Homo sapiens: one gene and its partners. The protein of the gene in region 3 interacts with the protein of the main gene of each other region in a pairwise test. Each region holds a gene or a part of one and is shown on either strand. Other genes may lie near its edges. The genes, in order: RFFL, DUSP10, BACE2 and RHNO1.

Region 1 (7,920 bases), on a different chromosome or scaffold from region 3:
AATAAGCAGCCATGGGCTCATGTTCATCAAATAGGAATGAAAAACCATGCCATCTAACAAAAAAGCTTCTAATATTGCAAAGAATAACGGTTTGAGCCCGGAGATCCACGTCAGCCACTCTCTCTGATGGTGCCAAGCTCTAGTCCAGGGACACCAAGTTCAGTCAAAGAACTCAACAGTCTAGTGGAAGAGACAGACAGTGCTGTCTGTCAGAAAAGACAGAGAAGTCAGAGAAGATGCATATATGAACTAAGTGTCCTGAGGGATGAGTATCTTGCCAGTTAGAGAAGGGAGAGTCCATTGGGAAAAGGCAGAGTCCTAAAAGACATGGTATATCCATGGAATGTTAACATGAGAAGTTCAGTGAAGCTGGAGAGGAGAGAAATGGCCAGGGGAGAGGGAGATGAGATGGTTAACAGCAACATGTAGGAAAGAATCCAACTGTGAAAGCTTTTAGAAGTCAAGCTAAGTGGAAAACAGGGAACAAATGGCACCTTAAATGAAAAGATTAGATGTGGACTTTAAAAAGATAACTTGGGCAACAATATGGAGAAGATAGGAGCAAGGAAAGACTTATGGAGGAGTGGCCATTTGATAAGGGTCTGAACTAGGAGTTACAAACTCAAATTCCTAGAGGCAATGCAGGTAAAATGCTAAGTCTTCAGTGTGTAAGATGTCAGAAAATGGTGGTATCCGTAATCTTTGAAGAGTACAGGCCTTCTCTCTGATGGTGCCTAAAAGTATTCACACACAAAATTTTAAGCCCTTAGGCTGACTGATTGATTTTTGGGATGGAGTCTTCTTCTGTGCCTAGGCTGGAGTTCAGTGGCACAATCTCAGCTCATTGAAACCTCCACCTCCTGGGTGCAAGCAATTCTCTTTTCTCAGCCTGCTGGGTAGCTGGTACCACAGGCACTGGCCACCATGCGTGGCGTGCCTTTTTTTTTTTTTTTAAATACAGACAGGGTTTCACCATGTTGGCCAGGATGGTCTCAAACTCTTTTTTTTTTTTGATATGGAGTCTCACTGTTGCTCAGGCTGGAGTGCAGTGGTGTGATCCTCGCTCACTGCAACCTCCACCTCCTGGGTTCAAGTGATTCTCCTGCTTCAGCATCCTGAGTAACTGGGATTATAGGCACGTGCCACCACGCCCAGCTAATTTTTTGTTTTTAGTAGAGATGGGGTTTCACCATGTTAGCCAGGCTGGTCTCAAACTCCTGACCTCAGGTGATCTGCCCACCTCGGCCTCCCAAAGTGCTGGGATTACAGGCGTGAGCCACCGTGCCCAGCCTGACTTTAAACGTCCAGTTTTGACCTCTGGTAAATTAAGGCAATGACAGTGGGAATGAAGAAAAGCCACACATCAAACAGTACTCCAACAAAATCAACAGGGTTTAGCACATTTAAAGATGTGAGCATAAAAAGAATGAACAAGGCCGGGCGCGGTGGCTCACACCTGTAAACCCAGCACTTTGGGAGGCCAAGGCAGGTGGACCATGAGGTCAAGAGATCGAGACCATCCTCGCCAACATGGTGAAACACTGTCTCTACTAAAAATACAAAAATTAGCTGGGCGTGGTGGCACGTACCTGTAGTCCCAGCAACTCAGGAGGCTAAGGCAGGAGAATCGCTTGAACCAGGAAGGCAGAGGTTGCAGTGAGCTAAGATCACACCACTGCACTGCAGCCTGGGTGACAGAGCAAGATTCCTCTCAGAAGAAAAAAAAAAGAGTTGATGAGAGGATCAGAGTTGAGAAAGTACAGTACAGGCTCTTGCTCATTCTACCCTTACTGAGAACCTACTATGTGCAACGTACCATGGATACAATTCTAGCAAAGCAGACCCTGATTCTCAATACATACTATGATTGGAGTAAATACCAGGTTCTCCTGAGTACTCAACCCTGGTAAGTAAGAAGAGGCTTCATGGAAGAGGTGACTTCTAGGCTGAAACCAGTTGGCCAGATTAAGCTTGGGGAAGGTGTGTAAAAGAACGCTTACATATGCTAAGGTCTGAGGTGAAAGAGAACGTGGGCAATTTGTTGGAATTATAAGGAGCAGAAACGTAATTTGGAGGGTGACGACTACCTAGAGATATCATAGTCTGATTAGGTGAAGGACTCAAAAGTTTGGCGATGAAAAGCAGGAGGGAGATAGAGTAGTAGCCTAGTAGAATTAGAGATGAGGGAGGTTCTTCCTATTAATTCAGAAAGGAATATGGGAACAAACTCACTGATAAGACAGTGTTCTCCACAACTCAATATTTAGTTATTAGGAAGGCAACCAAATGCCTTCACTTCTTTTCCTTTAACAATGGCTTAGTTTGACTAAAGTGTTTCTCACAAGATACACACAAAAAAACAAAATACAAGAGCAAATGACGGATAAAGCTGTAAACCTAACGTTTTACTTTTCTAAGATTTATATAATCAGTGATTTAATTGGACCTAACTCCACATCCAGAACTCAAATGAAAGAAAACTTCTGGCCGGGGGCCGTGGCTCATGCCTATAATTCCAGCACTTTGGGAGGCTGAGGAGGGTGGATCACCTGAGCTTGGGAGTTCGAAACCAGACTGACCAACACAGCAAAACCCTGTCTCTACTAAAAATACAAAATTAGCCGGGCATGGTGGCGCACATCTATAATCCCAGCTACTTGGGAGGCTGAGGCAGGAGAATCACTTGAACCCGGGAGGTGAAGGTTGCAGTGAGCCGAGATCACACCATTGCACTCCAGCTTGGGCAACAAGAGTGAAACTCCGTCTCAAAAAAAAAAAAAAAAAAAAAAAAAAAAAAAACCTGACTCACTTCTGAAGACAGGATTTTCCCAGTTTCTAATGCAGCTTCATCTAGCTAATGAAACTTAAGAAAACAGTTTGAGGTTACCTGATTTTGCCAGTTTCAAAACATTGCCACGACAGAAAGCAAGCTGTCTCTAGTTCCTGTGGCTGAGGTCGCTGGAGCCATGTTCAGATGAGATCATCTCAGGAACCAAGAGCAGCGGCTTTCATGTGAAGTGAATGGTGCCGCCTGGGGATGTATCTTTGGTAAGCAAGATTGCAACACAGCAGGGAGTTTACCCAGGGCAGTGCTGACTCACGCTGGGCAAAATTTGTACTTCCCAAACAACTCAGCCTGAACCAACCGCAGTCAACTGCAACCTAGGAAAGAAGAGGCAGCTCACTGATTGTTTTAAATCAAGTGCTGATTACTGGGGGCAGGTAAACCTCATTCCCCCACTACTGGTAACTTGGCCACCTCCAGAGCCCTTACCCAAAAAGTTCCAGTGGCCAGTTTCTAAAATTTCATCTGAGAACAGGCTGGGGCTGGGGCCAGCAAGATTACTGAACATAGCAGGTTCACAGCTCTGAAGATTTCCCCAGGAGGCTGATAAATAAGTCACTTTGCATTTACAAATTAGAACATCTGGGTCAGTGGACTCAGGGAACTTGCCCAGTCATCATTAGCCAGTCAAATCATTAGGGTGAATTTTTGTCAGTTCTAACCAGGCTCATTGTTCTTTTTTCCCACTAGGCCTCCTCTGACCTCTCTATTTCTTCAGACAACTCAAGTTCTCTCATTAAGATAGATGCACTGGAATTTTTTTTTTTTAATCAGCTGCCACATTCTCTATGCTAAAGCCAAATCATTTACCATCACACCTACTGGATGCATAGGGAATACAGAAGACTATGAAAATCACCTTAACACTTGCTCTGAAAAGAGACATCCCTAAATTTATGTCAATTCTCATTTATTAGCCTGCTTATTTAAAAAATCAATCTAGAATGACTGGCTCATCAACAGCTATTAATTACTGAATTTGCCCTGACAGGCTAGAATTGACATTGGTGTTATACAAAAAAAAAAAAAAAAGATCAAGTCCTTGCTTTTTGTGTGCTTTAATTTGACAAGAGAGAAACTAAAGTTCCTATTAGATCCTTCTGTTTCCTGCTTAAAATGTATGACAGTTCCCCAAGGCCATCAGCTATTTCTTAGCAGGGCATTTGAGGCCTCTGCACCCAGCTTCGTTCATCCTTTAAGGTAGGTCTCACATGGCATGAACTCTGGATGTAGCTGCCAACTCAGCTTGTCATTCAATAATGTTAGGTTAATTAAAATGTACGTGCAGACAGAATTTGAGTTTAAAAACTATACTACTTAATTTTCTATTCAAGGGGCTAGTTTTAAAAAGTTATTTATCCAACTCACTTAATTCTCCTTAATTACATTATTCCAGTAGGATAGCCACGCTGAGCTTTGATAAGGTATTATAAAATGTTCCCTGTTTTATTTCCTCCCCTTCAGTGTTTTCCTTTCAGAAAATGGCTTTGTTTAAAGAAGTTTCCCTATAGTACATGTTAATTAGTCCTTTCTGAATGATAAACACATCTTTATAGCAGCTGACAACCATTATCTCTTCAACCACACTTTAAAAAAAATTTCTGTAGTTGATGATAAGTTACAAATTCTAGTATGAAACAACTCTCAAGGTACAGACAAATATGGAACCTCCTTCAGAAAAAAAAAAAATGATTAGAAAAGCTCCTGACCTGTTCTGTATTTGCGAACTTTAAATAAGAGGGCCGGGCACAGCGGTTCACGCCTATAATTGCAGCACTTTGGAAGGCCGAGGTGGGCGGATCACCTGAGGTCGGGAGTTCAAGACTAGCCTAACCAACATGGAGAAACCCCCATCTCTACTAAAAATACAAAATTAGCCAGGTGTGGTGGCACATGCCTGTAATCCCAGCTACTCGGGAGGCTGAGGCAGGAGAATCGCTTGAACCCGGGAGGCAGAGGTTGCAGTCAGCCAAGATTGTGCCATTGCACTCCAGCCTGGGCAACAACAGAGCAAAACTTCGTCTCAAAAAAAAAAAAAAAAAAAGAAAGAGAAAATCCAGACAGTACTATGCCCAGGAGACAGATACGAACTATATAAAGAGCAGCCTGAAGGCCAAAGGCATGGAACTCCTAAGTTGACTAAGAGAAACACCATTGAGCAAGTGAACAGAGCTGCTGCAGCTTATCATTCCCCTCTTTGGGACTCTGATACAGTTTTAACCAACTGCCCCAAATTATAGCCACACTCCATCCTAGTTCTTCCTTTTAAAGTGGAAAGGTTGAGGATTACATTTTAGAGCTTAAAAAGGTACTCGTTTGAACTAGTGGTTTCAGGCACTTGAGGATTTATGAGGTTACATGAAAATTATGAGAATATGAGGCTATGGGAGAAATAATAACTGTGGCTTTCTGACTAAGTTCTTTCAATACATTATTTTAAAATTAGCCAGGCATGGTGGCATACACCTCTAACCCCAGCTACTCTAGAGGCTGGGGCAGGAGAATCACTTGAACCCAGGAGACAGAGGTTGCAGAGCCGAGATTGCGCCACTGCAATCCAGCCCAGGCGACAGAAGGAGACTCCATCTCAAAACAAAAAACAACAAAAACAGAAAATACGTTATTTTAAAACTCAAGTAACTTAACACCCAAAACTATTTATGCTTTTTTTAATAGGGTGGTCTCAACAGATATTTAATGAGTGTGCATATGTGTATGTGCCCATTGTTTCATTTGAACAGACATATGTGATGTCATTGACATCCCAGATTTACTTTCTTTTCTGCAATAGATCTTGACATTATAAACAATAAGCAGGTTTCAAAAGAGAAATTAAAATATCCATTTCTCAGGATTCTGTAGTCTTCCAAATCCACAGAAAATTACCAAATACATACAGAAGATCTGGGAGGATGCACACAGCAGGGAGAGCACTGTAATGGGAATAAAGATCAAATAGCTATGTTTAGCTTTATCCAAATTACCCCCCAAAAATCATGAATTTTTTTACAACAAGCATATATTCAAATATGACTTGGTAGTTTAAAATTCAGTTAAAATTTTAAAGTTTGTATCACTTACAAACTGCTTTACTCTCTCTTCACACTCTTTCCTCTCAACATCTCCCTTTTATCTACTTCCCTACCCCCAGCATCCTAAATGATACTGCACATTTCTTGTTTTTAACAAAATTAATCTTACTTGTGTCCACATCCTTTTTCTAACTGAGAAGTCGGTGAATGGATAAATGCACATTTCCAGGAATCAGTGCCTGTCTCACCTTGTTGATAATTAATGATTGCCAAATTCTAATCTTGGTGTTCAGTGACCTCACAGCCTTTTTTTTTTTTTAACTATAGAACATAGTATTTAAGAAAAACAATATGATGGCAACCAAATATTTATCATCTAATAAATCACAGAAATTAAACATGAAAAATGAAGTAAACTTTATGATACTCAACAATTAACTCTAGGGGTACTTAAGAATCAACAGGGGTGCTTATTGAAAATGAACATTTCTCATCCCAGTCCCTCAGACACTCTGAATTAGCAGACATGGAGGGAGGCCCCAGAAACTGAATTTTTTTTTTTTTTTTTTGAGACGGAATCTCACTCTCATCGCACAGGCTGGAGTGCAATGGTGCAATCTCAGCTCACTGCAACCTCCACCTCCTGGGTTCAAGCAATTCTCCTTCCTCAGCCTCCCAAGTAGCTAGGATTATAGGCGTATGCCACCATGTCTGGCTAATTTTTGTATTTTAAGTAGAGACAGAGTTTTGCCATGTTGGCCAGGCTGGTCTCGAACTCCTGACCTCAGGTGATCCACCTGCCTCAGCCTCCCAAAGTGCTAGAATTACAGACGTGAGTCACCATGCCTGGCCAAAACTGAATTTTTAATAAGTATCTCTCTCTTCCAAGCCTTTTTTTTTTTTTTTTTTGAGACAGAGTCTCGCTCTGTCGCCCAGGTTGGAGTGCAGTGGCACAATTTCTCGGCTCACTGCAACCTCCACCTCCGGGTTCAAGCGATTCTCCTGCCTCAGCCTCTCAAGTAGGTGGGATTACTATGCACCACCAGGCCTGGCTAATTTTTGTATTTTTAGTAGAGACGGAGTTTCGCCATGTTGGCCAGGCTGGTCTTGAACTCCTGGCCTCAAGTGATCCGCCCGTCTCAGCCTCCCAAAGTGCTGGGATTATAGGTGTGAGCCACTGCGCCCGGCCTTCCAAGCAATTCTGATACAGATGGGCCTTGGATCATGTTTTGAGAAAAAGGACACAGCTATGTTCCCTAAGCACTGTTTAGAGTAAAATGAAAAAAAGTTTTTTCAAAGACCTCCAAGCTGAACAGTAGTCACACTGAGCAGGTCCTAAACATAAGTCCGCTCACCCACAAGAACCACAAAAAATACAAACTGTATTCACTTTGTTGGTTGGACCATTATTTTCTTCAAGCCTTCAGAGACAATTATCCTAACTACCATTAAGGATTTCACCTGTCACCCACAGTCTTGTTATACTGAGACATTTTCACACCTGGATATGATACAAGGGGCTTAATGGAATTTTTATGGCTAAAAATTAAAGTTCATTTGACTCAACAGAATAGTCAAATAAAACAAAGGAGAAAACCCAAAGGAACAGGTTGAAAGTAGAGGCTTTTGACTTCCTGATGAGCCAATTTTGCCCAGAAATTCAAACCATGGGATGCTATATAGCTCATATGTCTTGAGAGTGCCCAAATGTCAACTTATCGCCAGAGTATCAGCCAGTGCAGGCTTACAGTAACATTTGGAAGCACAAATGTGCTGTATAAAATGGCCTCTCCTGGGAGATAGAGGCTGTCGCCATGGCAGAGATCATTCCATCTTGGGGCCAGAAGGACCAGGCAGTCCCTTTAATCTTTAACAAGCCACTTTCACATTTAGATACAGGAACTGGCACTGCATGAGGCTCAACCTGCTTCACAGCACTTTGCTGCAAAACAACCCCCCAGTTGTGTGAGGGCATGCTAACCCAGTCTGTCCCCACTGGTGCAGTTACCAGAATCTATTCTATAATGCAATTGTGAGTACTTT
Region 2 (7,037 bases), on a different chromosome or scaffold from region 3:
GACCACCGGTTCCACTACACACACTTGATTCAGGAATAAATAAACTGGTATAAACACTAAACTTAGATGCTGCTCAGCTTATATTACACTCTCAGTGAAAGCTATTATGTTTATAAAACCTGCTGTGTTTTTACTAAAGCAAGACTGTAAGATTTCAGTTTATCCAATAATATAACAATGAAAATAAAATTGTGCCTATGCAGGTTGTGATATGGAGTTGTTCTTCGGGCTGAATGCTATTTGTTATTGGTTTTGTTTTCCTTAAAAAAAAAAAAAAAAAGGCAGGTAAGCCTGAATAATCTATAAGGAATGTGAGAAGGAGCTTTAGTTGAAATCCTCTTAGAACAAGTATATCTTACCCTACTCATTAAATAGAAAACAATTTCCTAACTTCCTCCAACTGGAGTTAAGTCAGATGGAATCTCAGTCATAACATCACATCATGTATCAACCAGAAGTTCCTCATATGCTTGTTGAGAAATTTTTCTTCCTCAGCGCTCCAGGTTTGGCTCAGATTTTATTAATAAAGAATCTGCAGTATCTCTGCATCCTCAGTGTTGCCAGTTGGGAATTACTTAATAGGGCATCATAAACATTGCCTTAGTGTGTTGTGAAAAGGCCTCAGGCTTGGGAGTCAAAAACCCTGGATTCTGGCCCCTTCTTGGACACTAGAATTCCTATGACCTTGAAGAAGTCACTTTACTTCTCTAAGTTCAGTGATCACCCTGAATTTCCTTTCAGACTCAATATTCCATGGTCCTGTGCTGACGGCATAATTAGCAAGGAAAACAGCTTGGCAAAATGACCAGAGATGTCAACACTACAGCAAATCCACCAGACCCCACTGGCTGTTAAACCTGAGGCTGTTTTTTTCTTTCTCTGACAAAGGAACACCCCACTCCACTTAACTGTATTCTTCCTGGAATAACAACCTGCTGTAATATTTAGGAAAAGTACTAGGCCACCCCTTTATGGTAATAAAAGTTGAAGTTACGTAAAAAAAAATAAATGTTGAGTTTTGCTATATTGCAGGTGCTCCCAAAATGATATTTTGAGTGTTTTTTTTTTTTTTTGAGACAGAGTTTCACTGTTGTTGCCCAGGCTGGAGTGCAGTGGCGTGATCTCAGCTCACTGCAACCTCCGCTTCCCAGGCTCAAGCGATTCTCCTGCCTCAGCCTCCTGAGTAGCTGGGATTACAGGCATGCACCACCACGCCTGGCTAATTTTGTATTTTTTTAGTAGAGATGGAGTTTCTCCATGTTGGTCAGGCTGGTCTCAAACTCCTGACCTCAGGTGATCCACCCGCCTCGGCCTCCCAATGTGCTGGGATTACAGGCATGAGCCACCGCGCCCGGCGATATTTTGAGTCTTATAGCAGTTTGGGGCTATAGAAGTTGCAGAAATTAAGATTAGGATTAGGCTAATAGTTGCTTCCTTCTGGGGATCAAAGCGTGCTGTTGCTAAAACTTCCTCCTTGGGAACTACTCCGTCTACACAACCTGATCTTTCCTAGTTCAATGAGTTTGGGGCAGACTGTCAAAGGAAACCTAGTACCATCTCCCCTTATGCTGGATGAATAAGGCTTAGTAGGGTGACCGGAAGGCATAGGTATGTTTGGAAGGGGTGTCATATTCACTAGATATTGCTTCCAAGGTGCTCAACGGCGCTAGTAGATCAAGTAGCAGTAGCACCAGCTCTGACCTCCGATTCCTTACTTTCCATCCACTTTTCTGGTTACAGAGCACATAAATGCTAACCCCTACCACTATTTCACTGAGAACTTGAGGGATGAGGATTTCTAGTTGAACAGATCCCAACAAATTCAATTACTGTCCTTTTATATCCATCCTGATGGCTTGGATACACTCGACAGGCTATGACTTAGGAGAATGCTTAGGCTGTTTCAGGTGGCAGAGCCCTCCAAAACTCCAGGGCAGCTTTTCTTTTCCAACACAGGAATAAACCTTGAACTTGATATCAAAGCAAGAGCTGGAGGGAAAAGGAAGGCAGCGGATGAAAATTCCCTATGGGAGATAGTTACCAATGAACTCAAAAGCCTCTTCAAAGTACTGCCGCAGGTTCTGCTTGTTGCTGTCAGTGGCTGGCAGCCGCTTGTAGTTGAACAGGCCTTTCTCATAGTGGTAGAGGGGAAGATGAGTGGTGACGTTGATGACGTAGCCGATGTTCAGCCGCTGCATGGTGTCCAGGTCCTGAGCATCCTGCTCATTGCCAAGGAACAGGAAGGGCAAGATGGGGGTGAGCTCAGCGTTCTCGATGTCAGGGGTGGTGGGGATGGGCTGAGGTAGCAAGCTCGAGGCCGCGGATGCGCCGCCCCCCACCTCCCGGCACTCTTGGAGCTGGAGGGAGTTGTCACAGAGGTTTTCATGGTTCTGCTTAAAACTACTAAGTCCACCTAGAACACAAACACAGAAGGTGAGTGTGACTGAGATTTCAGAGCTGGCAGAGAATGCCACCTCCCCATTAGAATGAGTTTGCATTGTAGCTCATGCATATTTTAAATACATATATAAATATGTATTTAAGCAAAAAAAATAAAAATAAAAATAAAACAAAACAAAACAAAAACTAAAAGTCCATTTGGAGACCCAAGACAAGCTTCGGGGAGTATCACTGCATGGAACACTTTGGAAATGTGCTCTTTCTACAAATGAGGGCATGTTCCCCTAGCAAGAGTTCCACGCGGCATCAGGCAATCTTCCTCAGCTGCAAATGTGACCTGCCTCAAAGAGCCATATGCTCAGTGGCCTACATAGAACCCTGTGCTTTGGGAGCCAAGAAAGGCACAGATGACCTCCTCGGGTGGAATCTCAGCACCACAGGAGCATGTCTTGCACCCTTCATAGCTCACCTCACCCAGAGGGACAAGTTTGCTCCCAATACAGCAGAGTGGTTACAAGCAGGAACATTGGAAGAGACAGGTTATCTTGATTATAATCTGGGTACCATCATTTCCTGACACTATTACTTAAGTTCATTTATCTCTGTGCTTCAGTTCCACCATCTGTAAACTGAGGGTGATGGTGTCTCCCTTTGAGTGCAATTGTGAGCCTGAGATAAATGAATACGTGTAAAATACTTAGCACATCTCCTGGCACACAGTAGAACTCAGCAGGCATTCACTATTTTAATTTATATTATTTATATGATTGCCCACAGGTGAAATCAGCAGAGAAGTACTTGGAAAAGACAAGCCAGGGTGGGGTGTGAAGGACTGCTCTTATAATCTTTTTTGATATTCTCCACGTAGGGCCCTGACATTTATCAACCCTGACTTTCAGTAGAACAGAATGTGAGAGCAGCGCGGTTGCTTACTCCTCGACTTTCCAAGGCTTGTGGGCACATAAACCCATCAAGAAACCTCTTTTGGATGTGTGAATGCATGCTTTTGAGCTTACGGCTCTGCTCTGCCTCCCACGAGTTATGGGTCTAGTATAAAAAGCTTATAAACTGTGCTTATTTCTCCATTTTTAAAATGCAAACCTTCCCCTGAACAAGTGCAATCTCACTTTTGGGAATGGATCTTAGGGAAATCATCTAACCAAAGATAGTTAGCTAGATATATGGAGATGTTCACTACAATGTTATCTGTTTTATATATATTTTAAAAAGGCCAAGTAAAACACAAAAATAAAAGAAAAAAAGTTATTACATTCATTCCACGGAGTATTATGTAGCCTTTAAAAGAGTAGTTGCAAAAAGGATGTGAAAATAAATAAAACATTTTGGTTTAATATTAAATTTTTTAAAAGCTAAGTAAAAAACATTGACCAAAAGCTGAAGAACTGTACAAAAAACGAACAATTGTTTAAATTAGGGAATTTACGGATCATAGTTTATTGTTTAAATTTTCTGCTAATATTTTTACACACAATGGCATGCACAGATAAACCCAAAGGATTATTACAAAGCTCAAATTATAATAATATACATGTAAGTGCTATAAAATCTGGATTGACATTATTAGTGCCAACTGAGCTCTAACCCTACTCAAACAGAACTAGATACACTCTGGCTTTCCCTTTGAAAAGAGGGGGAAGTGGAAAAGTCCTATTAGCTGAAAGCCACCAGAACACAACATCTACCCTCAAAGACAGATGGCTTGTGGCTGTCTTGATAGTTCCAGGAGATAAGGCAGAAAACCCAAAGCATGAACAAGAGACGGTTATGTTGCAATAAGGACAGGAAGTCTATCTGTCCACTAGCCTCTGAGCCTGGCATATGTTCTTCTCCATTTCAAGTCTCATCTTTGACAAACCACAGCGGGAAACTCCAGACCATAACCTAGACCGAGTCTCATGACTTTTCACAACCAATGGACCCGGAGCTGGCTGTGTAAAAGAGAGAAATCATATTTTCCTTAAGGTATGGTTATGATCCAAAGAAAACTCAAAGGGCAATATTATGTTCACTTTACTCATTGAAAGTAAGAAGTCAAAACCTACCCTAGCTTTTTGAAAAGAAAAACAAGAGCTATATACGAATTTCAGTTGATTTCTAGAATTAACCTCTGCCCTTACATATGATAGTTTATTCTGCTAGGCAATTATGACAATAAAGTTTGAACCTGAAGAGATAATTCTGAAGTAGAAGAAAGAAAATATGGAAAATAACTTCACCAGTGAAGACTTAAAAAATAAATAAGATAAAAACTACCCATTGTCATCATCACAGCCTCCACAAAAGGGATTCTGAAGAGTTAAAATCTGCTCAGCTTCGCCTCCACAAAAACCCAAATTCCACACAGATTCTGTGATGGGAACCTAATTCACTTTTTTCTTCAAAAAAGGCAGTTGTTACATTTTTCCATATAAGATGAGAGGGAAGAACAATAAAACAAATTCAAAAGAAGGCTCTAAAAGCAGGGGAAAAACCTCTCTGTTCTTATTTAGGGTACTCAAGCTGTAATTTGTCTTAAAAGCAGCTAGTTTAAAAAAAAAAAAAAAAACCAACACATGCTAGAAAACCCCACACACAGAAAAAAGCAGCGTCCAGCTTTTTAAAATTCTGCCTCTACACCTCCTTTCTCAATGACATCAGCTGGAGGCTCCCCACCTGCCCAGTTGCCATAGCAGTTACACAAAGACATACAATGACATCAGTTGGCATGATATCAGCTCTTTGAGTGCAAACAATACAAGAAGAACTACTTTGTTTAAGGCCTTTGGTGCAACTGTGTTCTGGGGAGCCAATGATGTAATGCTAACAGGTGGCATGGGCCTTCCATTTGCCTAATGGGGGGAAAAAAACCCGTGGCGGAGTGGGGGGAGGAGGGAATTTGAGACAGACACACAGAATGCTCCAAATCACAGAGCATGCTTATGTGCAAAAGTATGGGTGCATTGTATGTTTAAGCCATGTAGGAACTCTGTTCTTATAATATTTGGAGGTGGGAGGGGTGGGGGTGGAGAGAAAAGGAGATATTACAATTTAAACATATAAGGTAAACAAGGAAATTCTCCTTGAGGGGTCTGAAGAAATAGTCTCCTGTTCAACTGCCACTCTGCTAATCAACTTGGGCATCAGTTTTCCATAAGGCTTATGCACAGCTCTGTACTGCAGTTAAAAACTCTCTCTGTGGACGGTGCTTAAAGTAAAAAACAACGAGTGGAAGCTCACAGTGGTGGCTTTTTCCAGAGAAGTCTGCAGGAAGGATTGTTTTCTTCTCTTGGGGAAGGGTTGAAATTGAAATCTGGAGGGGAGGGGGAAGAGTAAAGCTAATCTGGTTTTTCTTTTCCAGTTACTTTCCTCCGACCCTACCCCATCAAGTATCACCAGAGGCCAAAGTGACTGATCACTTAATGAGGAACCCTGATGATGTTATGTTTATTACTATTTAAGAATATTAGAACATGATAATTAACAAACAAAGCAGGAGCAGTGTAGCATGGAGGTTAAGAGCAAAGGTCAGAGACAAACCACACCTAGCTGCAGTTATGATTCTGCCTCCTAGCAGCTGTGAGACCCTGTGCAAGTCAGGTTCCCTCATTAAGCCTCAGTTTACCAATCTATTAAGTGGATGTAATATCATCTACCCATCAGGGTCATAGTTCAGGAAGCCTATGTAAAGGTTTTGATACACGACCAGGTATTCGATAAATAATGTCTTATTACCCCCAATATCATCACCTTTGTTCTAAATTCCAACAGATCTATGCACACGCATAGTCCATGAGAGCCCTAAGTGCAGTGCAGTGATTCAGAGAAGGAGTATTGAGGCTGGACTTCTTGGGTTTGAATCCCCAGCACAGCCAAACACTAGCTATGAGACCCTGGGCAGGTTTCTCACCTGTCTGTTCCTCAGTTTCCCTGTATACAAAACAGGGATAACAATAGTACCTACCTCACTGTACTGTTGTAATGATTAAAGTGGTTAATAAAGTACCTTAAAACAATGTCCAGCACATTGTAAGTGCTTTTTCTTTTCATCACTTTGGGAAACTACCATTTTAAAGATCTAAAAAAAAAAAAATCTGCTTAATATAAAGACTCTATATAAGTAAACTAATGTTCCTGAGTTTTTACTTTTAAAATTTTATTTAACAAAAAAGAATTAGGAACCAAGGTATCCGAGCAGTTTTAAAGTTTGCAAAACATACTTTTAACATAAAGAAAGCAACAGCTCCCTATTTTTCCTAAACAAATATATCTGATTTCACTTTGTTGGTCCTAGCTTTCCTAACAAACACTGTCTTTGCATTTCTGGTTTTTCCACAGAATTGGATTTTGAAAATAAAACTGTTCTTCCCTCCTTCTTCCTTTCCTCTAATTTCTACCAAGGTGGCTAACTTCCTTATGTGCACAAGAGCCTGCAGTTATTAGTGCGAACATATTGTAGCCATGAGCAACAATGCTGGGGTAGGGTGAGGCAAGGCGGGGTGGGGGGGCAGCAAACATTTTCAAAGCTTATGTCAAAAGTAGGTTCTCTGCCAAAATGAGTATGGTCAGTACATTGATTCTAAATGGCAGCAACAAAGAATACCTAGCACCCCTAAAGAACTATATGTGGAAATACTGCC
Region 3 (7,037 bases):
AGAGAGGCGCTGGGCCTGAGCCAAGCGGGCACTGCGGCAGGGTCGGAACGAGCCCAGGTCTCGGTGCCTCTGCATGGGCTGCACCTTGTACAACACTCCCCGCTCCAGGTTCATTTCTAAATACAGAACTCCAAACCCTTAATTTCTAGAATCCCATCTGAACAATCCATGCCAGGGGACAGAGCTCCACGTTTTTATTGTCTTTCACTCTCTGAAGCCAGCCCTCCCCTTAACCAGAAGGAAACCCACGCCAAGAGGTTTGGCTTACTGGAACTGGTAGATAAGAAAAACAAACACAGCTTTGGTCCAGAGACGGTAAGCCAGACACACAACGCGCCCTTGTGATGCTTTCCCTGCCCAAGACAAACAACCTTCCCATGTTTCTCCCTCCTGACGCAGGCACCGAATGAAATCAGAGGATAATTTTAGACAACGCAAACAAATGTTGTGATCTCATTCCCTCTACCTCGTGGTTTTCGGCTCAGCGCATGCCACGATGAGCTCGGGAGTGCGAGCGCCCCACGGCCCCGCCGCCCCGCCTCTCACGGCACAGGGGTCTGGCCGGTCCACGACGTGCTGGATTTTCACACTGCGCTTCAAACACGTCCTCGGGATGGTGGACAGACTTTTCCATTCAGGATATGAAGTTGGAAGATACTCCCGTTAATTCTGCTGAGGGCATTTTTACTATTTAAGAAATGAGGGTATCGCTCCTTATTTTAAGTAGGGTCTGATTTTGAGCAAGCGTTCTAAATTTAAGGCACTAAAAATGTTGCCTGCCACTTTCTCTGATTCAGCAGATAGTGGGAAGGATGGAGACTCTGCCGTGGCTTCAGCTGCAGCTGCGCCAGTGGCTGGCCGCCTTGAGACCTGCTGCTTCGAAAAGAGCCCGCGTCCTTTCCTGCCTATTCCCCCTCTGTGTCCGTTTCATCCACGTGCCGCTCTTCCCGCAGCAGTTACAGGTGTTTGAAGTTCAGGACAACCCAAAGCCCTCTCCCGCTTGTCACGTTTCTGCTATGAGCTGTTAACAAGGCACCCACCATACGTGCTCCTATCGGCCACTCTTTGAATTCAGCCATCACAGCAGAGTAGCGGGACAATCAGCCCCACGCCAGGGCCGCAGTACAGGCTTTGTGCAGGAAACACTTTCTGACGATCTCACAAGGAAGGCCCAGATGCTATGAGAACACTCAGGCAGCCAAAAGTCATGTTCCTCTCGCATCTGAACAAATAGCAGCAACGCCGTGGTTGCATGTTTCATGGAAGCTCCAAGCATCTACTAAACACCAAGCATTTGACCCAAAACTCACAACCACCCCTCAGTTGAGAAGACGGAGGCTCTCAGAGGGCACAAAACCCCTCGCCAGGCATCCAGCTAAAAGTGGCAAAAACTACACTAAATTTAATTCTATTTCATCCCCAAAGCTGTCCTGTATCCAATGTTTATTGCCCTGAACTGACTGGAAAGTTGGGGTCACACCAGAAATACCATCAGCCAGGTCCCGAAAAGGCATATTGTCCACAATCATAATTTTAATTGTATTTCAGAGCATGGCCATAAAATAATTATTAGATTGGCTGATTGTTCTTTGTCTTCTGTGAAAAAATGGTATTCTTTTATACAAACAGAAGTTAAGATACCAGTGCAGGGATGAAAGCCAAAAAGGAGTAAAATTTTTGGTTTGTTTTGTTTCAAAGGCTATAAATTTATTCTCGATTTATTGTTTACTCTAACATAGCTATATTAGCAAGTATTGTTTTTTGCAGATTAAAAAAATACTATACCAACTGAACTATTATTTGAAATACTAGAGGGCATTGCACATTCAGATCCAAGTCCTCTGAGGTTCATGAAGGTACTATTTGCTAACATCAAAGAAAGGGACTGTGAAATTAACAAGTAATAGTTGAAACAAAACCCTTCAAAATATAAAGATTTTAAATACATATAAAATATATTTACATATTACACCTATACTATTACATATAAAATATACAAATACACAATATGAAAATTGGAAATACATGGCGCAATAGTTCAGAGATGCTCAGAACACGCAGTGCTGCTCCTCAGCAGGTGACTGTAACTCAGCAACTCGGGGACCCGTGAGTGTCCCGAGGACTCACCAGAGATGCGCGGGCCACAGCTTCCACCACCGCATCAAACACCTTCTGGGGCAGGCGCAGCAGCGTGGTGCCACTGTCCACGATGGCCTTGTCTGCGTTATACTTGAACCGGGAGAGAAAGGGAAAGGTGCGTGAGTGACAGTGGCGCTCCCCGCCCCACGTGGCTCTAGCCGCCATCACCATCTGTCTGTTACACACAAATCCAGGCAGCCACACCAGTCATCATGGACTGTGTAGTTCATTCATGTTCTCAGAACTGGGGAACCAGGGGTCTTCCAACCCAACACGCTCACTTCAGAGACAAGGAAATGGACCCAGGAAAGGGAGGGGACACGGCCCAAATTAGCAAATCAATAGCCCTCCCAAGGCACAGCTCTTTCCTTACTCAGAGGTGCCCAAGTTCCTTCATTGAGGACCTGCACTCCTGCCCCAGGGCAGAGGGAAGACCTATTTGTCTTTTGAGGCTGAAATATATTAAAAGCCATTTGTACAAACTGTACACAAATCAATTCTCTATGACCTCACTAACGAAGAGAAGGATGGACAATTTTTCAACAGACATCCCATATTTGCACTGGGAACAGAACCAGGGCCACAGTGCATCATAGACTGAGACACACACAGGCGCTGCCAGCCCTGTCCTCACCTGCAATGTTCTTCATGTGGCAGAGGGAGGAGAATGGACACCAGTGGCCAACACCAGATGAGCCACCCCAACCACTACGGGCACAGCTGCATAGGCAAGTCTACCCAGGGATGGAATGAGTCCTGGGTGACCTGATCCTCCTGCCTTAAGGCAAATCCATGAGTCACATGACCAATACACCAATCGGGTCAAAAGGAAATAAGGGAAGAGGGGTTCAGAATTTTAAGAAAATGAAATATACCAATGTATTAGTATTCTTCACAAATATTAAATTATTTTCAGTGTAAAAACAAACTTAATTTAAAATCTAACTTAGCGTGTTCATAAAATTTTCAGTTTTTTAATATGTAAGAAAAGTAAATATGTAAAATATGCAAACTGAAATGTTGCGCTAAGATGTCCTGGGATTTGTTGTTTGTTCTTTTGTGGGGTGGGTGCATATGGGGTGGGCAGGAAAGAACCTAGAATCTAAGAATCACACCTCCAAATACAGGCTTTTCCTCTCTAATACACACACACACACATACACACACACTCACACACACACACACACAGAGGTTTTGTATTTTGTTTTACATTCGGACATTCGATTCTACCACTGGGTTCTTAATTGACAAATAAGTGCCTCTTGACAATAAACACAGATTTGCAATAGAAGCGACCATCATTTTTATAATCTTTAGTTTCTCAGAGGTGTCAGGCCTCTGAGCCCAAGCTATGCCATTGCCATCTTATCCCCTGTGACTGTGACCTGCACCTATACGTCCAGATGGCCTGAAGCAAGTGAAGAATCACAAAAGAAGTGAAAATGGCCGGTTCCTGCCTTAACTGATGACATTCCACCACAAAAGAAGTGAAAATGGCCAGTCCCTGCCTTAACTGATGACATTACCTTGTGAAATTCCTTCTGGCTCATCCTGGCTCAAAGGCTCTCCCACTGAGCACCTTGTGACCCCCACCCTGGCCAGCCAGAGAACAACCCCCTTTGATTGTAATTTTCCACTACCTACCCAAATCTTATAAAGTGGACCCACCCCTGTCTCCCTTCACTGACTCTCTTTTCAGACTCAGCCCACCTGCACCCAGGTGAAATAAAAACCTTGTTGCTCAAACAAAGCCTGTTTTGTGGTCTCCTTACATGGACGCGCGTGACAAGAGGTACCTGCATATATGAGAATTGATGTTGGGATGTGATGGGTAATACGAACAGAAGTGCTAACAGGTTAGAATATAATGACATCCCCATGGTTTTTATAAAGCATTCTAAAAGTGCTATAGAAGACTGAGGCTCTCACAAGTCATCATAATCATAATGTCATAATGTGTCACGAACAAGCCAGAACTCAGTGAGAAGGCATGAACATGGTCCTGAGGTTTGGTGTCAGAGCTCTGTATGTGGCCACTTTAGCACTACCAAGCCACACACATCTATACAGCATGACCGTTTTTTAGGGAGAATTGGGTACTCTGGGGGCCAGGCTAGCTGTGAATGGAGGATAAAAGCTGATGATCTTTTCGGTTTCATTTTGCTTAATTTTCGTCCTTCTCTGTCCTACACTGATTAAAAATCTGTTTATTTCAACCTCTTAAACTGAGCTTAGGGACCATCAATCCAAGATGAATGAATGGTGAAAGGTGTAGCTCAGATAGTCCTCTTCACTCACCATTTAATGGTAATTTTGCCCTATGAAGATAAGTGGTTGGGAGGATGCAATATTTGGGGTGGGGAGGGAGGACAATTAATTGATTTCAACTTACTGTACAGCAAGGCCCTGCATCTTTTCATGTAATGAGCCTTTATCTTACGAGGTAATGTACCTTCTATTGGCATCTACGGGTTCCAGCTGGCATATTTAAGGGACCCAGACATACACAGAAAGACACAACAGAGACCATAGCATAAATACCTCTCTGCAGTCCAGATTAAGGCTTTGGCCTCCAATTTCCAATTTCAGAATTTCTATCTGGTAGTACCACTCTTCCTTAATAGGGGTATACCAGATGTCTCCTTTATACAAACTTGGTTCAATTCCACCCAAGACCTGGGACAGGAAATATTTACAGGTATAAGAGAAAAAATACACAGACATATCAACAGGTTACACAGAGAAGCATGCACTTGTAAAGAGAAACTTCACTGCAATCAGGGCTTCTACTTCGTGACAATGTCATGAAACAAATATCAATGCTTAAAAAATAAACAAGGAGCCAGGCGCGGTGGCTCACGCTTGTAATCCCAGCACTTTGGGAGGCTGAGGTGGGCGGATCATGAAGTCAGGAGTTCGAGAACGGCCTGGCTAGCATGGTGAAACCCCATCTCTACTAAAAATACAAAAATTAGCCGGGCAAGGTGGCGCGCACCTGTAGTCCCAGCTTCTCAGGAGGCTGAGGCAGGAGAATCGCTTGAACAGGGAGGCGGAGGCTGCAGTGAGCTGAGATCGCGTCACTGCACTCCAGCCTGGGCGACAGAGCGAGACTCCATCTAAAAAAAATAATAATAAATGAAATAAAATAAAATAAAATAAAACAAGGAATTTTATGGGTCCACGTCTGCAAAGGTCAGATGGTATTAGGCCCTCATCTAATCAAGATGCTTTGGAGGTTTCTCTTATCCAAAGAAAGTACATACAAGTTTAGCTTTACAATATTGAGATTTTTCCTTCAAAGAAATGCAATAAAACAGTTAACCACACTGACTGACAATTATTTAGTTCCTTGGAGGTCAGAGAACAGAAGATCAAGCACTTCCCTGATCAAAGCTTCATTGTGCAAAATCATAAAACATTTCCTCATAAATCCTATGCTGTCCTCTGCCTGGAAATGGTAGCAAATGAAAGTAGCTGAGGACCGGGGTGCAGATCCTGCCTCTCATAGTCAGACAGCAAAGGGACTGGCAGCACCCCCTTCTAGTGCATTCTTCCTGTCCCCTACTACTTTTGACGTCTGGGTGCCGGCCCCTGGAGGGAAGCTCAGGCTCCAGCACCTCCGTAGTGCTGACGGCCTTGATTCTGTTTCAGCAGCAAACACTTGTGCTGTGGTGCGTGTGTGCCTGTGTGTGTTGAGAGAGAGAGAGAGAGAAAGGATCTACAAGGGCCCCTGTTTCCCTGCCAAATTTATGAACTCTCCTTTGGCCCCCTACCCACAGTCAGGTCCACTCACCACGCCCCCCACCGCTCCTCACTTGTCCCTCCCCCACCCACAGAAAGCAGTGCCCTTCCAAGGGCGGTAAAGAAAAGTTTTAATGGAATTCGGAGAAGCGATGAGAATCATCCTTCCAGATGGCAGGATGACATAAAGGATTGCCTAATTTTAGCCATTTCTAAAAAGATCTACTACAAGGAGGATGAAAGTTTTACAGTACCTACGCACACCTACATGCCTAATATTTCTGCTCAGGTGTTTAATAAAACAGAAAAAAACAGCCCATCCATCTGTGATTTTTCGCCCCTTTAAGACTAAAAGATACCCACAAGACTACCTCCGTTGGTCCCAGATCCAGCAACGGGCAAGCCGGCTCCACACATCTGCATGGAGAAAACGTTGGGGATGTTTGCTTGTGTCACCAGGGAGTCGAAGAAGGTCTCCAGAGAACTTGATGGCTGCGGGAGGGCGACAGAGAGGGGCACCCGCTTAGGACTCACAGTGTAGACATGGGTCACCCAGTGTAGACGCCACGCGCCACAGACATTCCTGGTGTTTATACTCAATTTTTTCATGGTTCAACAGTACACCAGCTTGTGATTGGGTCTAGGAATTCAGAAAGCCCCAGCAGAGCTTCCCACTGGTTGGCATTCTTCCTTTGGGCACGGCTCTGTTGTACAAATAAGATCATATTTCTGGAAGCCATTCGACGCAGTCACATCTATCATCATGACTGCCTTGTGAGGGGGTGTGAGAAGCCGTGGAAGTAGGTTACCGTGGCAGGTGGTGGATCCTAATCTTAGGCATTTGAGAGTAAGGAGAGAAGAGTTTCTCTAGGAGCTGCCATGGCCGCAGACATCTTTGTTTGCCTGTCAGCCGCAGCTGTCCACCATGCAAATGAGAGGTGGCTGACCTGGGAGGACAGTATCCCCCGGACCCCAGAGCCTGGGGTGAGGCTTAGCTCTGCCAGATGAACTCTGGCAGGAAAGAAGCAGGAAAGGCACAAATCTATACTCCAGAAGCATAAAAGGCTTCTTATTCCCCCAAGGCCAGATTTCAGAAGCCCTCGTGTGCTCTGTGTCTCCCTCACATCCAGCAAGACATACAGAGGATGCCCTCATTT
Region 4 (2,839 bases), on a different chromosome or scaffold from region 3:
AGGGTTTCACCATGTTGGCCAGACTGGCCTCTTAACTCCCGACCTCAAATGATCCACCCGCCTCAGCCTCCGAAAGTGCTGGGATTACAGGCGTGGGCCCGTCCTGGAGACTCTTTCCATCTACCTTTCTACCTCCTGTGGGCCTTCCTCAAACATCCATAGCCCACCGTGAGAGCCCCTGTCTAAATGTGTACTCTTGTCTCCAATAAATCCCGTCCCCAAATGTCAGTCCCTTTCTCCCTACCGACATGCACATTATAGTCCCTACAAAACATCCTGAGTCCTGACAAGTCACTGCACAAATGGCTTTATGGCGTTCTAAGGTCAAAGTTGTTTCCACATTGGTTTTGAACCTACAAGTTAGTACTTTAGGAGGCACACGCTGAGAGTGGACCGTTACACTGCCTGGGTCAGCGTGCACTCACTGTGTGACCTGTGCATGGTTCATTCTCTGCATCAAACTCCCATCTGTAAAATATACAGTAATCCCTGCTTGATCTAGTTGGGGCTGGACCTGACACAGTAGGTCCAGCTGAATGAATGCTAAATGAATGGGTTTAATGAGATGCTACTTGTCTGAGTAAAAGGCCGAGACATTCGGTTGACTGGGGAAGTCCTTCTGCATTAATTACAATAAGTAATACTCATTGAAAACTTTCCTTATTTACACACAGTTGAACAGTTATTCTAAGAAACCATTTTCCCACCCTATTTAATATTGACAGATTTCTTCAGTTAGAAACAAAAACTCAAAACACACGCAATCCTAAAGAACTCATCTATGTCCCCCTTATCTCCCCTCATCTTATGTAGTCCCTAAAACAGGGCTTGCTGCCCTTTCTTCTTCTTGCCTTTTCAGCAGATGAGTCAAGGTTGCAGAGGTGGCAGTCAACCATAGAGTCACAGAGTTTGATTTTTTTCCATCCATCAGGTCGTAGAAGCTGCCACTGAGCCTGACAAGAGTTGGTACTCAAAAATGCAGAATGAATTAGTTTGAATGAGGTGATTAAGGATTAATGAGTAGTGGTTAAGGAAACAAAGACCATTAGTGGATGGGGTAATATTGCTGTATTACTGATGGAAGCAGGATTCTCTAAAAAAACTTTCTGCAGCCATTTACTTACATACATTTTAAAGAGTTACTACAAGATATTTTAAAAATTTAAACAGTTAATACAAGAAAAATATGAAGTGAATAGTTCATGACACTAAACTGAACTGTTCATGACACAAAGTATCTTAGAAAACAAATCTCGGCTGGGCCAGCACTTTGTGAGGTCAAGGCCAGCAGATGACTTGAGGTCAGGATTTTGAGACCAGCCTGGCCAACATGGAGAAACCACATCTCTACTAAAAATACAAAAAAATTAGCCAGGCATGGTGGCTGGTGCCTGTAATCCCAGCTACTGGGGAGGCTGAGGCAGGAGAATCGCTTGAACCCAGGAAGTGGTGGTTGCAGTAAGGTGAGATCATACCACTGCACTCCAGCCTGGGCAACAGAGCAATATTACATCTCAAAAACAAAAACAAAAACCCTAGGAATTGAATTCCTTTATGACTCCAGAAAACATATCTCTTTTCTATTGAGATTACTGATGGCAGTCAGCTTTTCACAAGGAATTGGCTTCTGCTCAGCTTCCCTCTCTCCCTGAGGTAAGCAAGCAGGTGCTGTCGTCTCCTCCATGTGACCTTTATTCCATACTTGTCCTCGGGGGTGTCTTTAACCAGAACAGGTCCAGGCTCTGGGCTATTAGGAGTGCCAGTGTGAAGAGTGCAGCTTAGAAGGCTGTTTTCCTTCTGATCTTGGGGAATGAGTTCTTCCTTCACAGACGATGACTCTGGGGTCTGGATATCAGGTGGAATGAACACATAAGGTAAGCTCTGAAGTGCCTGCACTGACATGTTCCCACAGCTTTGGGGACTGAGCACTGGAACTAAGGGTCTTCTGGAAACATCCTTTTCTGATTCACTGGGGCACTCTCGGATTAAGGGGATCCCCAATGTCTCTGAACTGGAAGATTGCGGACTCTCAAAAGTTAGATGTGGAAACTTGGAGGTGGTAGGTTTTCGACTTGAGTGTCTCGCCCGGTTTTGGTGTTTCTGGTAGGCTGGGAACAAGCTTCCTGCTGCTGTATCAAAATCAGGTGATACCTTAAAAAAAAAAAAAAAGTGAGGTGAGCCTAACTAAGTACTAACCTAAGAGAGGAAACTGTATCTGATGACCAGACTCTTAAATCGGGGTCTACTGTAGTAATGAACACAAAACTAAAATAACTGTCTAATGGCATAATAACAGGAAGCTTTGGGCAAATTATTCCATCTCTCCGGCCTTCAGCTTCCTCATGTGTAGGAAAGGGGACGATGTCTCTTTCACTTCATCACACCATATGGATATAACTTTTTTTCTTCCCCCTGGGATGGAGTCTCACTCCGACGTCTAGGCTGGAATGCAGCGGCACCATCTCGGCTCATTGCAACCTCTGTCTCCCAGTTCAAGTGATTCTCCTGCTTCAGCTTCCCGAGTAGCTGGGACTACAGGCGCCTGCCACCACGCCCAGGTATTTTTTTTTTTTTTTTTTTTTTGGAGACAGAGTTTTGCTCTTGTCGCCCAGGCTGGAGTGCAATGGCAGGTCTCTGCTCACTGCAACCTCCGACTCCCTGATGCAAGCGATTCTGCTGCCTAAGCTTCCCGTGTAGCTGGGAATATAGGTGCGCACCACCACGACCAGTTAATTTTTGTATTTTTAGTAGAGACAGGATTTTACCATGTTGACCAGGCTGACCTTGAACTCTTGACCTCAGGTGATCCACCCACCCCGGCCTTCCAAAGTGCTGGGAT

Evidence for each region.
Region 1: the proteins of BACE2 (region 3) and RFFL interact in binary tests that used the Homo sapiens proteins (3 or more experiments, as listed by UniProt).
Region 2: the proteins of BACE2 (region 3) and DUSP10 interact in binary tests that used the Homo sapiens proteins (3 or more experiments, as listed by UniProt).
Region 4: the proteins of BACE2 (region 3) and RHNO1 interact in binary tests that used the Homo sapiens proteins (3 or more experiments, as listed by UniProt).

Annotation. Positions count from the first base shown.
Region 1 is NC_000017.11:35,060,689-35,068,608, forward strand, and holds the start of RFFL (E3 ubiquitin-protein ligase rififylin), read right to left. Parts: upstream 3,020-7,920; 5' UTR 2,888-3,019; intron 1-2,887.
Region 2 is NC_000001.11:221,704,054-221,711,090, forward strand, and holds part of DUSP10 (dual specificity protein phosphatase 10), read right to left. Parts: intron 2,414-7,037; coding exon 2,042-2,413; intron 1-2,041. UniProt on the Homo sapiens protein: Protein phosphatase involved in the inactivation of MAP kinases. Has a specificity for the MAPK11/MAPK12/MAPK13/MAPK14 subfamily. It preferably dephosphorylates p38.
Region 3 is NC_000021.9:41,241,154-41,248,190, reverse strand, and holds part of BACE2 (beta-secretase 2 isoform A preproprotein), read right to left. Parts: intron 6,373-7,037; coding exon 6,244-6,372; intron 4,816-6,243; coding exon 4,681-4,815; intron 2,230-4,680; coding exon 2,128-2,229; intron 1-2,127. UniProt on the Homo sapiens protein: Responsible for the proteolytic processing of the amyloid precursor protein (APP).
Region 4 is NC_000012.12:2,887,223-2,890,061, reverse strand, and holds the end of RHNO1 (RAD9, HUS1, RAD1-interacting nuclear orphan protein 1), read right to left. Parts: intron 2,152-2,839; coding exon 1,603-2,151; 3' UTR 538-1,602; downstream 1-537. UniProt on the Homo sapiens protein: Involved in microhomology-mediated end-joining (MMEJ) DNA repair by promoting recruitment of polymerase theta (POLQ) to DNA damage sites during mitosis.